2 separate regions of the Homo sapiens genome follow, and region 2 is linked to region 1. The links come from fine-mapping of genetic effects on gene expression. A gene starts in region 1. The other region holds a variant in brackets. All regions are shown on one strand. Distances are from middle to middle.

Region 1 (8,325 bases):
GCAGGACACAAGGACTTCCTCTATCACTTATGTGTGAAGACTGTCAACTCCCTGTGATTCACTACCAACCTGCTAGTGTCAACACACCTTAGCAAAGTGAAACTCCGTGATCCAATCAGCTTGGGAATGGTCTGCTACTCTTCTAATATTCCTGATCATGGGGACAGAATACTCAGGAGACACATTTTAGTTCTAGTTCTTCCAGGTACTAGCTGAGTGAATTCTAGTAAGTTACCAAGGGGGATCATAAGACTGCACTGCTTGCGCAGACATAAGCATGAAGTCAGACAAAGGACGGGAAAGCCATCTGAAAAGTTAGAAGCACTCTACACATGTGAGACAGCAACGGTAATCATAGGGGAAAGGACTTCACTGAGAAAAAAACTGAATAATGGTTTTGTTTGACCCAGAAGTTTACCTTCTTTATATTCCATTCATTTAACAATTACCTGTTAGATACCCACTATGTGCATGATACCCACTATGCGTACAAAAAGATGAAGAAGCTCTATGTCGCTCCTGTTCTCATGGGGTTGGTGTGGAAGGGAGGTGTACGTCTGTGATACTCAGAAGGATGCAGAAGTGCTACAGGAGAAGCACTATGGAAGTACAGAAGAAACCCAGCAAAGCACTTTGGAGTGGAGGATCAGAAGGAGTGGGGAGGAGAAATCACAGGCAGCCTGACCTGGAAGCCACTTGTGTCGGTCAATTTAACAATAGTACTTTCAGAGGCTCTTCATTTTAGGAAGTGGTTTGTAGGTTCTGCAAGTTTTTATCTTAACATTTTTCCTGAGCTGAGGCAAGTCAGGAAAAGGGAAAAAAGGCCCCATTCATATATTTAATAAACACTTCCTGACTGCCAGGAACAGTGCTAGGGAATAGCAATGACCACAAGACAGTCCCCATACTCAAGAACTCACAGACAAGTAAACCAGCCAGCGGAGTACAGATGCTGATGAAGGTCAGAAGAGCGGCACCCAGTGCAGCATGGCAGGGTGTGAGGGGCCACTCAGGGAAGACCCTCAGAGAAGGTGAAGCGTGGCCTGACTCTTGAAGGATGAGTAGATGCTGGCCTAGTGGACAGGGTGTGAGTGAAGGGGAAACATTTCAGGCAGAAGGGACAGTTATCCAGAGGCACATGGGCACGAGAGAGCAGGAGAAGCTTGGAGGATGGAACACACGGAGTGAAGATGGACAGCCAGGCCCAGAGGGCCTCAGAAGCCCTGGCCCAGAGTTGGGCCTCTATCCTGAAGATGATGGCAAGGGACTACAGGGTGAAAACAGGAAAGAAACAAAAAGGATCAAACATGAGGAACACCAAAGTGTGAAGGGCAGACAGAGGTAGAAGACCCCGGAAGAGTCAGAAAAATATCACTCCACTCATTTCACAGCAGGCTCAGGTGGCAAATTGTCAGCAGGAATGGCCACTCCATGCTACAGATGGAGAAACTAAGACAGAGAACAGCTCAATGCTTGACCAGGCCGCACTGTGAGTGGCTGAGCCAGAACCTGAACGCAGCACTCTAACTCCTACTCACACTTACCTGCTCTGCCTCTAATTTCCTTCCTTTTTGTCAAACTACTGGACCCCTAGGTATAGGGAGATTTCTTCCAGTACTCCCTTTTCCTCCTCGTTTAAGCCTAAAATCATCAAGGTGTATGGTTCAACAGGAGGCTACAATTCCTGGAGCCAGCTTAGATTGAGGTCACTATTCTTAATTCTACTTAATCCTCTCTCCATACCATAATAAAGCCACCTGAGTATACACTGGAAGATGGGGAAGAGAGACAGGAAGGGGAAAAGGGAGACAAGAGGGAGACAGAAATAGGGAGGGAGGGGGTGAGTGGGGAGGAGAGGAGAGAAAGTTGGGAGGGGGGCAAATGGCGGGGGGAGGTGGGGTGGACAATGGGAGAGAAAAAGAGAGCGAGAGAGAGAGAAGCATTTGGCTTGAGGCCAAGAAGTGAATCTGTGATCTGAGATGTGAATATCAAATGCCTTCTTCCTAGTAGGACAGACCACCGGGTCACTTTTCTGAAAGGCAGATGGGTGTATGGGGAGTGGATGGGTAGATGGTGCAGGAAGGCAGCAGGTACCCACTAAACAAACAGGGGGTGGGCGGGTTGCCTGCACAGAGGAAGCAGAGAACAAAGGCCTCTCACTCTTCATGCAAAGTCCACAGTGTGCAAAGGGCATCAATATTGGACATTTCTCACTGTGACATTTTGAAAGCTCAGCCTAGCCCAGAACAATGGTTACCCTCTGGGGACCATGGGCCATGTGCCTTATTTAATGATGGCTTGGCACAGCCCATGTACTTGGTGAACTTGACCTTGGGCATCAGCCTCCCATGATGGCTCTACGTCACTCTGGTCTCTTCCCCTAATGAGAATTCCAGTCTCACATGAATGGATGGATTCATTCTGGGGGCAGGAAAACCACTCAGGGAGTGAATCAGAAGGACCCAGCCCCGGTCTCCTTGCCAGCCATTGAGCTAGGAACTGAGTGTGATTGTGTGCCCAGGCGCCGGTGCTGTTCCCGTCTTTGAGAGACAGGGTCAGGGTCCACGCAAGAGATGACGTAGAAGCCCTTTAAGGGGGAAGAGAAAGGAATCTCAGCTTTGAGGGACAAAGCCACCCTTCTGGCTGTGACTCTCAGTCCAAGGAGATACCAAGATGTGCATGTACTGGTAAATTAAAGCTACTAGATGAAAATCTCAGCTCTTGTTAGACAGTTGTCAATCTCAATTCTCTCCAACCTGACAGGATAACCTTTAAGGAATGGGCTACTATTTTTTCAGAAGGGAAACTTTCTGTGAGACAGGTGGAAACAACCTGCTTCGGATCACCCAGAGAATCATTTACCTTTATTAGTTTCTGCTGTGCTCTTCTCCCAACTTGTGAAGGAAAGATTGGTTCAGTAAAGGCCAATCTAGGCAATATAAAGCATCTGTACTGCCTCATTTTCACTTTGAAAAATTAGGTAAGAACACTCCAAAGATTCAAGACGCAGCAGCCAAAAGGATATCTATATTGCAAGACTGGGGGGCCCAGAATGACACTGAAAGGACGTAATTCCTCTGGGAAAGGGAACTGAAGAATTGCCGCTTTGCCCACCACTAACTAGGTTATAACAAGACAGGGAAGGTAGCTTTTTAAGGCTCCAGCCCCTTATTGGCCTCCTGGAGCAAATGGTGGAGGGAAAAGCAGAAGCTCCTGCCGGGGCTTATTAGGACATTGCTTCAGGCTTTCCTCCCGTGCTTGCGGTGATTGTCTGACATTTGTCCATCAATCTTGGTCTAAGAAACAGGTGGGGGAGGGGACAGATGGTTCGCATTTTACTTTAGAGAAGTATCCCTGACACTGACTGATATCAGCTGCTTGCGTTCTCCACTGATGGCCAAAATTAAGCTTCAAAAGCCTTCCTGAAGGACATTCTGTTATCTTAATTCATTCATAACTGGTTATCATGCGCTTTGCATAAACAAACACACTAGCCTCTGAGGACAGAGTGGCAAATATGTTCCCTATGTCCATGGGCTGATTAATCTTGTACATCTCTGGGGCTCAATTTATTCACACACTATAGTTGAATCCCCTGAGGTCCAGGGTTGTGGCTATATAGGTCCTTGGGCCTGACGGTAAGGTAAGGTGCTGCATATGAGTATTCTCTAACCTCTAAGAAAGCCCCAGGAAGGCAGGCAAGTCACAATTCTCTCCTGTGAACATAAATAATCGAGAGCAACAAATGGGGATTGCCTTTTGGGCAAACTGAGTCTTACAAAATAAATACACCATTATGAAGTGTCTACTATGACCCAAGTATCACATCATACTGCAGCAACTGGAATTGTGACTCTATTACTCTAAGACTCCCTGGCTTCTTTTCTCATGGCATGATAGTTCCCATAAGTTTAAACTTAACCATGCCTATTTAGAGGGCAGGCAGTGAGTAATAGCTCTGGAATGATTAAAACCAGTCCAATCCCACAGTGGAAGGGTGTGTGCGGAGTGTAATTCTGGCCCCTTTAAAAAGAGAAGCAAGTTTTCCTTGTCTTTTGAAGCCTGCTAAGTCGTGCAAAGAGGATAGTTACCCAGAAGGGAGTGGGTTTTGATTAGTGAACTGGGTCCAGGCTGCCACAGCGAGGGCCACAGCTCTGGAGGGACTGGCGCGGGGCAGAGATGCCCACAGGAGAGAAAGACGACACTGACTCCACCTCAATGGGTGTTTAAAAAAGGAGGGAACAAGGAAGTCCCTCACTTCAAGGAGCTAGGAGGACGCGAGTCCGGCAAAACGGGTCAGACGCGGAGTCCCAGGCTAAGAGGATCATCCGCCACTCTCCCCGGGAGTCCTGCTGAGAGACTGCGACTCCGGAAAGCACCGAGGGAACGACCCTAGGGCAGGGGCTGTCGGGCCTTGCTCTGGGGCGGAGGGGTCGCGCGGGACCGGAGGGAGCCGGGACGCGGCACTGACACAGGGCCAGGGGCCTCGCGGGTCCGCGGGTCCAGCAGCTCCCGCCGCCTGGGCCTCACTCACCAGCTCATGGTCCCGAACCTGCGTCTGCCGCCGGGGTCCTCAGCCACAACTCGTTTCTCTAGGGTCACTTCCGGATTCAACCAGTCTCCAGGAAGTGACGTAAGCCCGCCTCTCTGCCCGGAAGAGGCGGTTGGGAGGCGGAGCCCGGCGCGTTAACCCTTCTGCTGCTGCGTGCTCGCCGCGGAGTTTCCCTTGCCGGCGACTCTCTGGCTCTGGCCAAGCGCTTAGACACACAGGCTGCAACGGGGGATGAGGGGAACCTCTGGGGGCGTTTTCTGCCTTCAACACTGACTCCTAAAGATCTCTTCACCTGACCATGCAGGGCCCTTAGCCGGGCTGTCCCCTCTGTCAAGTGGTTTCTAATCCAGAGACAGTGGCAGCAATTGTCTGTGGGAGAAGAAGCCATTTGGGATGGAGAAAGTGGAAAACTTACATTCTCTGAATGCTCTTTCCTATCTTTTACAGTTTGTACACCACACATGCATTACCTGTTACAAACAAACGGACGTTTCCCTTCCAAGATGGCACAGGGCTCTGAATATCAATAGATAGGTGCTTTTCAGGTTGGAATGTTTCCTAGAGTTATTCAACACAATAAGACGCAGAGTATGAGTTGTTCCCTGCCTTTCAGCCCTTCCCTTTGGTCTCCTCTACAGGACTCAAATGATGTAAATTGCCCCATTCGTTCTATTCCTTCATTTAACTAATACTAGTTGCACTAATATTAGTGTCAGGTACCGAGCCAACCTTAGGATACAGCTATCTCAGAGAAGTATCTGCCCTGCTCTTGTTCCTTCCCAGAGCTACTTTCCTGGAGGGAGAGACAAGCAGGCAATTATAATCATGCTATAGGATAGGATAGAATGAGGTGTGGTGGCAGCCTAGAAGGGGACCCTGAAGTAGCACATGGGGTTTTGGGGAAGGCTTCCAGGAGGAGCCAGTGTGTAAGCCAAGCCCTGAAGGCAGAATCGGGGCTAGCCAGGTGAATCTGAGATGAGGGGTGACGAGGCTCCAGGCAGAGGGAACTTACCATGGCTAAGACACAGACAGGACCAAGCAAGCAGCTGACTTGCCTCGGGTCTCCCAAAGTCAGAATTCAGGGCCTTAGTGGCTCACAAGTTGCCTGGGATTCTGGGCCGACTTGGTTTCCTCACCGCTAAGTACCTCCCTGCCTTGGAAGAGAGACAAGAAGGCAGTGAGGCCCGTGCAGGTGCTGCTGGGCCCCCAGTGACCTTCTCTCTAGGAATTCTCCTTCCTCAGATGGACCGGGATTGTTTCAGGGACTGCTTAGGGGGTTGCTAATCAATGACCTAGCGGGAAAAATATGACCAATGACCTAGAGCAGAAGTAGTGTATGATTTGTTTTGACCTCCTAGGGTGGAGTAGAGGGCTTGAGCAGGAGAGGTAGGAGGGTGGGCCACAGGATGCAGTCTCTCATTTGTGTTTTCTGTTTCCATTCTTGAGAGTCCATAGTTTGACTCAATTGACGTTTCCAATGGAGGTTGGATCCCCAAGCACATCATGCAGATCAGCTTCATTACCATGTTGTTCCTCAGGAAACAGGCCAAAATGAGCACAAGAGCAGCCTTGAAGAGTAAAGAGGAAGAGCAGAAGTCACCAAAGGGTAGCCTGGGCAGAGAGTGTGGGTAAAGGGAAAGAGAGAGTCCTTGCTGCTTTGCAGAGAGTGTGACGGATGGAAGGGCTGTTGTGGGTTTAGGAGCCTCCTGGCAGTTAGCACCTGTGAATAGTTTTCCCACCTGCTTCCTCCCTTCCCCATGTTCTGCCTCCCTCAGTTATGCCCCACAGGGATAAATATTTCCAAACGTTTTAGCCTAGGTAACTGCTATATCCTAGTAGAAGTCTGTTTCAGGGCTGGAGGGCAGCAGACACATCCTAGAGGACTAGAATGGATAAGTTCTGGACTACAAGTCTGGAGGAGTCTGCGGCTCTATTTCCAGTTCAACCTTTGACACTATAACTGACCTCAGATAAGTCACATCCCCTTTGTGGCCTTAGTCCCCTCATCTATAAGATGGAGTGGGTAGATCACATCCCAAAGTATCCAACATTGCAAGGTTCCAAGTCAGCTGTCTTGTTGACTCTAGAGGCCCTAGGGAAATAGGAGAATGGGAAAGGCAGGTGAACAGAGGGGCAAGCCCAGAGAAGTGGGCAGGTCTGAGGAACTGGTGATATCTTGGATAAAGCTAAATATGAATTTTTCTGGGGCTGTGCTGTTGACAGGTCACCTCGAAATCTTTAATGCAGCCAGCAGGATCTTTGAGGTTACTAAAAAGAATGGTGTCCTCCCAGGAGTCTGTCTGGAATGTGCCTGCTTGGTCTCCTTACCTGTGGCTCATTCGCTCAGCTAGAGGGGCACTGGGCTGAGGAGGGACAGTCAGGCATCCTGCTATCCTGTGTTCCTCCATGAGCCTGCTGTGCCATGAGGCATTGATCCCTGGGGAGCTGAACATGGAGACACACAAACACTTCCCACTGTTGTGAAAAACTCAGCCTGCAGGGTCGGGAGCTATGTCTTTCTTATTTATAACCAAAGGGACAGCATGATACAGATTGATCCTGCCCCTGCAGGGAAGGAATGGAAAAGAGAAAATTGGGTTTCTAAGTAGAAGCTGAGAGTGGAGGCGCTTTGGGTAGAGGTGGATACTCCTGGTTTCAAGCCTTGTAAATACTGATTCTTCCCCAGAAGTCTGAGCCTGAAGGTAAAAGACTGTTCAGGTGGCAGAGGTCTACTTCTGGGACAAAGCTGTTTACGAGGGGAAAAGCAGCAGCAGAACCTGCTCCACCATCAGCCCCCAACTTTTCCTTGGAGGTTTTTGCTCAGAAGTTGGTAAGCAGGTGCTTCCCACTGACTCTCATCTCTGGGATTGTCATGTCCTGTCTCTCCCAGCCTTTCCCACACAGAAGTCTAGGGCTGGCCCCCGAGTCTTTCACCATGCCAACCTCTTATTAGTGAAGAGTGAGCATTCCCAGAACCTGGACCTGGGCTGTCAGGGACTTCATTATAGCACTGGGCTAAGGCTGAAAAACTGAATGTGATAGGGCCAAATTGGTGGGCTCAGCTCTCTTGGAGCCCTAAAGGTCTTGATTCCTCAGGGAGGCTCCTGCAGATATTCAGACACAGGCCTCAGGTTTCTCTGTGGCCTCACTGCCCCACTTCTCCCTACTCTGTACCTGCTCAGTAGGACGTCTCAGAAAAATAGCTTTCCCAGGGCCTTTGGGGGGCAAGGACATAGGAGGAGGAGCAAGGGTGGGAGAAGAAGGAGGAAATCAGGGTGAGATTTCCAGTGGTGGGAGGCCCACACGGACTGCTCAAAGGTCAGGGTGAAGTGACACATCAGAAGCCAGGACAGCAAGAAGCGAGCAGAACCAGGAACGCCTGTCTGACCCGTGGCTCTGCCTCCAAGTGGCTTGAGGGAGTCTTGTCCCTCCTCTGGGCCTCATTTTCCTTGACTGCAATGGGAAAGGTCCAGGTTAGATCTGGGAGGGCGAATGGATATCATCCCATGTGCCAACTCTGATTGTCTGCTTGGAATGCAGTGTTGAGGATTCTGGGGAATCTGCCATCAGTGGGGAAGTTCTATGATTGATTAGTCATGTCTGCCTTGGACAAGAAAGAGCGATGAGATGGTTTATATTCCACTTTATTGTTATTATTTTTATTATAAGTTAACAATAATTGAGCACTCATGACATGACAGGCACTATTCTCTGCAGTTCACATTTAATCCTTGCCTCAACCCTGTGAGGTGGATACTACCATTATTATCATT
Region 2 (8,320 bases), 34 kb before region 1:
AGAGCCCTGTGGGCTTGCAGCACCTTGCAGCACACGAGGCCAGAGGGCTTAGAGCCCTGAGAGCAGAGGGAGCCCACTCGGGCCTCCCCGCACAGTCCACCCAGAGGCCCAGACCGGGCAGAAGTCATGCTTGCCCACCCCACACCAAGACCTAGTCACCTTTTCCTGATTGAAGGCATCCATCCGCTTCATGGCCGTGTCCAGGGCCGTCACCATGTTCAGAAGGTCCTGGTCTTGCTCACAGAGGGGATTGGAGAGTAAGTCCAAGGATATCTTCACGGCAGATTTTGACATGGCTGTGGGAAGCCAAAGCTCGGTGAACCTTCTATGAAGGGGCAGGTTTCACGGCCTTCTCTCCAGGACCCCGTCCTCCTATGCCAGGGGCCTGCACCCTGAAGACCTCTTCCCACAGCCACGGCCGTCAAGAACGGCGAAGTACCACACAACCACAAGCTGCTGATCCCCATGGTTTAATGTTCATTCCTGACCCTAACACTGCTCCAGACAATTCTTTTGAGCCGCTTTACCTGTTCTCCAAACCCTGGGTTAGAAAAGGACCATCTGGGTGGGAGGCTATAAAATATGTTTCTGGCTCCAAAGATTCTAATTCAGTAAACCCGGTACCCAAGAATATGCATTTAAAACCGCTCTCCAAGTGGTTTGGACGTGATGCTTGGTTTGGGACTCCTGGATGGACAAGAATAACAGTACTCCAGTTTACACATGCTTTTACTACAAAAGGCCCAACAGTAAATATTTCAGGCTTCGTGGGCCATACAATTTCTGTTGCAACTTCTCAACTCTGCCTTGTGCTGTGAAAACTGCCAGCGACAACACATAAAAAAAGGGATGTGGCTGTTTCAATAAAACTTTATTGACAAAACTAGGTCAGATTAGGCCAGCAGCTGCACCCTGCCAACCCCTGGTTTCCTCAATATCCAGTAGGAAGAGATACGCTGGAAAATGTGTTTTCCCCCAAGACTCGCCCAGACACACACTGCAGCTGGTACAGGCGGGACTGGGACAGCAGGGCCCTCCTCCCGGGTCTGTTCCTGCTCCCCCAGAATTTTGTTTGTAAATAATGGAAACCTGGGGACTTGTACGGGACAAAGAGCTCCAAAGCTGCCAGCAGGTCCCCATCTTAGGGTTCTGCCAAGGTTCCCATGCACTCTCATTTAGGGCTCAAACAACCCAGGGGATGTCTAGCGGAAATGTAGTTTGGTTCCATTTTAGCGAGGAGGCAGATTAGGCGCAAAAGGGTTTGTAATGCCTCCAAGGTCAAACGGCTGAGTGCGCCAGCCGGGCCCTGACCCTTGACCCTGGGCAGCTGCTTCCCTGTTCACTGCTCTCCTTCTGATCTGGCCTAGAGGAAGCCAGTGGACAGGTCCATCAGGCTCTGTCCATCAGGCATCCACTGACGTTTTTCAAGGCACCCTGGTACCGGATCCCCATGAATGTGCCGCCCACCCCTCTGTGCTCCTCCCTCCTGTGTTGACATTCCCTGCTGGGCAGATGGGAAGCCTGGGAGTCACAGGCGGCTCAGAGGCGGGCTGGAGACCTGCTGGCAGCTTTGGAGCTCTTGGTCCTGAACATGTTTTCAGGCCTCCATTATTTCTAGATTCTAGAAACAAAATTCTGGAGGGGCAGGAAGCGGCCCTGGAGAAGGGTCATGCTGGCCTGATGCCGTCTGTACCAGTGTCAGAGTGCATCTGGGGCAGGTCTCAGGAGAGAAGACACATTGTGAATGCATTTCTTACCATATGCATGTTACTGAATTTAAGATGCTCTTCATTATAAGTCACTTATTGTATGAACTACTAAGGGAGAAAAAATTGTTGTCAATCAAACCAGGCTACACTTTCAGTACTTTGATTTCAGAGACATTAACTGTGGAAAAAGTGTCTTAGGACCCATGACATAAGGTCTGCCTCCCAGTTAATCACAGATGTGGCCTTGCCTAGCACTCCATGGCATGAACCTGAACCCTGACCCTGCGCTCCCCGGGGAAGGGTCTGCCTCCGCCAGGCCCCTTCACCAGTCAGCAAAGCAGCGCTGAGCGGACTAGCCAGCCCGGAGCACCCTCCTGGGGTTTTTCTGGAATCTGGGAGAGTGCTACAGTCAACCAGCAAAAGGGCAAACTGTGGGAGAAGGCTGGAAATGTAAACTTTCCAGAAATGTTGAAGCAACGGAGGGAAAAACACCTCTTAAATTCTGTGGAGTGACTCTGTAGATTTAGGAACAAACGTTACGTATAACTTGATTTGATTATGAAATGATCACATACAGCATAATAAAAAGATAATAAAATTCTGGATAAAGCTGGAAATGTTTCTGAAAAACATCTTCTGCTATTTCTTAAAAAAATATCTGAGGAAAACAACCCAAAAAGCCAGAGGAGCGAGGACACGGTCTTTCCACTTTCCTTTTTTTTTTTTTTTTCAGACGGAGTTTCGCTCTTGTCACCCAGGCTGGATGGAGTGCAATGGCATCATCTCGGCTCACTGCATCCTCCGCCTCCTGGCTTCAAGTGATTCTCCTGCCTCAGCCTCTCAAGTAGCTGGGATTACAGGTGCCTGCCATCACACCCACCTAATTTTTGTATTTTTAGTAGAGACGGGGTTTCACCATGTTGGCCAGGCTGGTCTCGAACTCCTGACCTCAGGTGATCTACCTGCCTTTGCCTGCCAAAGTGCTGGGATTACAGGTGTGAGCCACTGCGCCCAGCCCAGCTGCATTTTCCCCTTTCTTTCCTAAAGCTCTTGCATTGTCAGGAAGTCAAGGAACTGAGTGGGCTCAGTGGCCGGCCCTGGGCAGAACTGGGTCTGGAATCCCCGCCCAGTGATGCCCCCGCTTCATGTGAGCAGAGCAGAGCTGGGGTAGATGACACCAAGAACACCATGGTCTTGGCTGGGCGTAGTGGCTCATGCCTGTAATCCCTGTGCTTTGGGAAGCTGAAGCAGGAGGATCCCTTGAGCCCAGGAGTTCGAGACCAGCCTGGATGACACAGTGTGACTCTGTTCCCCCTCAACAAAAATAAACAGCAGGTCTCCATGCCCCTCTGGACCTGTGGTCCCTGCCCCAGCCCATACCCCTCATTGTTCCCTGCAGGGACTGGGAGAGGGGCACAGTCAGCCTGGCCCACACCAGGAGGCTGGTGATCTTTGAACCTTAGAGAAAGTGAGGGTCTTGGACCCCACCCGGGTCTCTGGAGTCCTGATGCGGCCTCTGGAATGTAAGATTCAAAGATTCACCAGAGCACTCTGAAAGTAGTATGAGTTTCTGAAAGAAAGGTCATCTTTTTTAGAATAACTGGGGATTTTCCACCTTGCTGGGGGAGCGCAGGAGATTCCACGCTCAGGAAAAGCATCCCTCCATTCCCCTCAACTGTCCAGATCAGTGGAGCTCACAGTGTGGGCCTCAGCATCACCTGGGAACTCCAGGGACACACATTTTCAGGTCTCGCCCAGCTCATGAGTTAGTTGGAGGCTGGAGGTGGGGCCCAGCGGCCCACGGCACAGCAAGCCCGCCTACAACACTGATGCCCCGTACATGAGACTGATGTGGCTGTCAGGCTCGCCTTGGCCCCATGACCACCACCACCGCTCTTCAGAGGCACTGTCTCTGCCCACATCCATTCCTGACTGAGGACAGTAGTGTTAGGCTTCTGCAGTTACCCATTCAACTCTGGTTTCTCTGCTGGGAAACTAAGCTTTCCACAGCCATGGACGGTGCGTCACGGACCCCTGATGCCCTCCTTGGTTCCGTAGCAAGCCACTGTGAACACAGCACACCCTGGCTTCGTTTATGCTCTGACAATGCAGCTGTCTGCAGAAGCAGGAAGGAAAGGAAGCAATGGCTCACAGCAGCTCCCGAACTGGAAAGGCAGTGGGGACCGATCAAGAAAAATGCGACCCAAGTAACTCAGACCTGAAATAACTACAAAACAAACAACTGCAGACAAACTCCCAAATCCAGTCCTTGGCTTGTGACACACATAGTTTGGCAACGCTAGAGGCCAGGAGCAAGGTGCATGTTCAGACCAGCCCACGGCCCAGGAATTAGCACTGGCATGAAAATTCATGGCACAGACCAAGACGGCCACAGTCCCTGCACAGGCAGTCAGCGCTCACCCGGGCATGGTGGTGGTGACGGCGGCTCCCAGGGAAGGAACGCTTTCCTTTTGTGATCAGTGCTTTGTAGGAAAGGTGTGTTTACACATCAGTAACTGGCTGAGGCTTAGGAGCTGGCATAAAATGGGAACAAATTCAAATCACTGCCTCTAT[T/TA]GGGACATTTCAAGGGTTTTCCTCGTAACTGCAGTACCAAGTAGGAGCACACTGGTCCTCAAGTCCCACCCGTAGGTGCCCACTGCCCTGTGGCCCTTTGAATGGTGTCAGGAGACAGTGAGGCCGCCCCATTTGCACTAGGCTCACAGACAGCCAAGCAAAGAGTGGATGGGCAACGGTTCCGGAGTGGGGGCTGTTTCGGTCACCTTCTAGTTTGGTGGCGGGCACGGGGGTGGGCAAAGGAATGAGTGGGGCATGGGGAGGCTTCGCTGTGGAGACAAGGCCCTGGACTTGGAGAAGAGGAGCTGAACTCTTCCTCCTTTATCAAATGGACATGCCCATTTATAAAATGGGTGTGTCATGTGCCCTGCCAATCTCAAGGTCAGAAAAGCTCAGGGAGGTGAAATTTCTTCACAGCCATAACATGGCATTATTCAGCAGCTGGAGTGGCCGAGGGGACTGAAGATGGCTTCTCCACCCTCCTGCTGCCTCTCCTGCATCTCTGGTCAGCGTGCACCACCTTAGGGCCTCCGCGCTTGCTGTCCACTGTGTTTCAGGCCCTCTTCCCTTGGCTCTACCTGTGTGGGTTATTCATTCCTTCAGGACTCTGCCCAGGGATCACGTCCCCACGAAGGCCTCCCTTGACCCTGTCACTCTCCACCTCCTTATTTTTATTGACCTTGCACGCCACGACGTGTCATTATATACCGATCCGCTTGTGGACCTCTTGCAGGTCTTCCTCCTAGAACGTAAGCTCCCATCTTGTCTTGCTGTTGAGTCTCTAGTGCTGAGAGTGCCTGGTGCACGTGGGTTCTCGGTCAGCATCTGCTGAGTGAGAGGAAGTGGGCAGTCCTGGCCATACCCAAGTCTCTTTCAGGTCCTCGTCCCAGTGTGGTATATAGACACGGCTTCCCCACTGGACCCAGGGAAGGAGCTGCAGGAGTCCACCCAGTCAGGGAGGCTTGCTGCCGACCATGACGACGGTGATGACAGGAGCGGACACCCCGAGAGCTGACCCGTGCCAGGCCCTGTTCTCAGTGCTTTACGTTGCTCATCCAACTTCATCTTCAGCAACAGCCTGTGCCACTCGGATTGGCGTTACCTGTGCTTCTCGGGTGACGGAACTGAGGTAGAGCTAAGTCAGCTGTCCAGAGCTGCGCAGGGAGTGCTGAAGCTATTGATCAACCTTTGGTCAAGTGCTTGCTGCTCCGGGGTGGGAAAGTCAAGGCCTTGGAGAAAGAACCTCAAGGAATGGTCTCCATCTCTCCCGGCTGCTCGTCGCCTCCTTCCTGGGACATGGCCTGCAGCAAGGGCTCTGGATGCTCCCTTATTCCCGACCTGCTTGTGTCTCTAGGCTCCCAGGCCTGGTTCCTCCTTGTTTCAAACAAGAGCTCTCCAGCCAAGAAACCTCCCCAAGGGCCCTGGCTGTTTCCCAGCACCTGCTGGCCCCCACTTCCCAAGGACCTCCCGGTGCCCTTTGTCATCATAGAATTATCTGGGGTATTTCTGGCCTTACACTTTAACCCAACCTCCTGTTTAAACACATGACAGCTTCCATTCTTGTTGCCACTGGAGCGCCTGTCCCAGCAGGCCACGGAGTCTCGTTTCTGCGGGAAGGAATGTGCTTCCCTTTCCCTCTGGACAGCCTGAGCCGGTGGCCAGGATTCTGAGGCAATGGAGGCATCTGCTACCAGAAGCTTCCACCAGCTGCTGTACTGTCCTGACTGGAGTCCCAGGAGAGCCTTGCCCCAGCACCCACATCCAGAGTGGGGCAGTGCGAGCTCTGTGCAAAGTGGGATGTGACTGGTGAGGAGTGACTGCCCTGAGGCTGCTTCTCAGGACACTGGGTACACGTCCTCTGAGCGCAGCAACTTCAGAGCCCTTGGGGGGCTGAGAGAGGAGGGTGCCCACCTCTGCCCCACCTGCTCAAGCGAGTGGTGCGGGTGGAAAGTCACCTACCCAGGTCTGCGTCGGTGCTCTTCTTCATGTCTTTCTGCAGCCTCCGGGTCTGCTCTTCCAGCCTGCAAGGCAGGGGACGGGCTGCTTGGGGTCCCCTTCCTTCCCCCTACCTGAGCGAAGCCCAGGTGCTCTGGAGGGCCTGCCAAGGAGGAGGAGAAAGGGATCTTCTCCACGGGGACTTTTCCCGCTGACTGAAGTGCCACTACACCCAAAGGCTATGAGTGAATGACTCTCACATGGCCATTGCCAGGGAACAGTTCCAGCAGCCTGGTGACCTGAGCTGCCCTCAGCTTCCAGGGTGCTCACGGGGCAGGGCACGGGGCAGACAGGTGAGACCTGGCAGGGGGCCCTTGTCCCTCCCTGCCTCCCACCTCATCTTTCTGGGGTTGACACTCACTGCTGAAGTTTTCCATACTCCCTTTCAAAGTCTCTCTCCACCTGAAACGAGAGAGATAACTCAATTATCGGAGAAATGACAACACGGTGGAAAAAACCTCCCAGCCTCCTGAAACTCTCTCCACACCCTGCCCCAGTCCGCAGAAAACAACATGGTCCAGTTCACACAAGCACCGACAGATCGCTCCTGACACGGTATTTCTGAGATCCCAAGTTAATTAAGTGTTTGAATTACGGAGGAAGGCTCCCCTCCCAGAGGGTCCAGCCAGGCAGGTGCCAGCGGACTGTGGCTCTGCTCTTCCCAGCTGGGAGCAAGGCACTCGCTGCATGCCCTCCTCACCCCAGGCTGGAGGCAGTCAGGGTGCTCAGAACGTGACTGGACCCCATCCAGGAAGGCAGCAGAGTGCAGAGGAGAGGGCGGGTCTGGAATTGGGGGTCTGTCTCTGCCTTTTCCTAGTTTCCAGGTCCATGCAGGGCACCTCCCCTCCTACGCGGCCCTCCACTCAGGGCCACCTGCCCCTGCTGGGCTCAGGGTGGGTCAGGAACAATCGTGCACCTGTGCTTTGTGATTGGGATGCATCAAACACAGACACTGTGACTACTGACTCAGGTCAGGCTCTCTCCATTCCCGACCGGGTATCAACTCTCTTGAGAGCCAGCAACACTGAAACCAAATGGGTGAGTCCTGAACCCGGGGCTGCACTTGTTGCGGAAGATGAAGTTAAGAAGTCTAGTACTTTCTTCTGGTGCCTTGACTTCACTATCTGTAAAACGGAGCCTCATGATTGGTCTCTTATGGGCATGCAATGGGAAGTAAATGACATCGAGAGGCAAAGGAGACTAAGCTAGAGGCCTGCCCTCCCTGGCCAGAGCTGCAGCCGTCAGGTGCCAGCTTCGGGCTTCGTGCTCTGAGAAGTCAAAACCGCTAACTCACATTCACAGAGCCCTCACTGTGTGCTTTACAAGAATGCAGTTCTCTACACTCATCTCCAAGGCAGGTCACCGGGAACCAGGTTACGTACCCTGGCCAAGGTCACCCCATTGGTGAGGGGTAGAGTTGAGCACAGTGGGAATGGAACCCAGGCAGCCTGGCTCCACAGCCTGTGTTCGTAACCATCATTCTCCTGGAAGGCATTTGCTGACCCAAGAAAGAAGTCTTCCTGGCTGCTCCCTGGGAATCCTGTCCCCAAGAGCCCTAGATCCTGACTTCTGCTCTGAGGGTCAGGGAGTACACATCTGCAGAAACTGTCAAAGCCACGCTATTCCTACCACTGTCTTCCAGCAACGCTGACCTGATGAGAGAATTCTAAGCCCCTTAACCTTAGCACTCCACGTTTGGATTTAGATTAATTCAACATAGCCCTGGAATGACAAAACAGCATTTATGCTACAAATGAGGAGCCCGAAGCCCAGAGACAGGAGTGACTTCCCTAAGGATGCAGGACATTCTGGTGGCAATGCAAGGCTAGAATCCAGAGTCCTGGTTCAGGTCTTTTTGTTTCAAATTTAAACAACATTCATTCCTACGAACATGTATGAGCACCTATTAAGTGCGATGCATTCTGCCAGGTTCTGGGGATACCCTGGTGATTCAAACAGACATGGGCCCTGGTGGTGGAGATAAACAACTGCCAGATACAAATTTACTTGCTGACTATGATGGGCCTTTTGGACAGCAGGAA

The links. PIP is the estimated chance that this variant, and not a neighbour inherited with it, causes the effect.
Region 2: its variant is fine-mapped to the expression of BIN3 in fibroblasts (GTEx, PIP 0.97).

The regions. Positions count from the first base shown.
Region 1 is chr8:22,664,510-22,672,834 of GRCh38, forward strand. BIN3 (bridging integrator 3) reads right to left here and starts at 4,612. Exons shown (of 9, transcript NM_018688.6): 1 at 4,535-4,612. The coding sequence starts at 4,542. RefSeq lists a silencer at 4,312-4,471 and enhancers at 4,335-4,964, 4,722-4,781.
Region 2 is chr8:22,630,283-22,638,602 of GRCh38, forward strand. BIN3 (bridging integrator 3) reads right to left here. Exons shown (of 9, transcript NM_018688.6): 3 at 6,640-6,680; 4 at 6,243-6,304; 5 at 160-296. Among named protein-coding and RNA genes, the nearest start is that of BIN3-IT1, 7.8 kb to the right of the region's middle. RefSeq lists enhancers at 851-1,385, 1,386-1,920. The variant T/TA (reference allele first, on the strand shown) is at 4,284.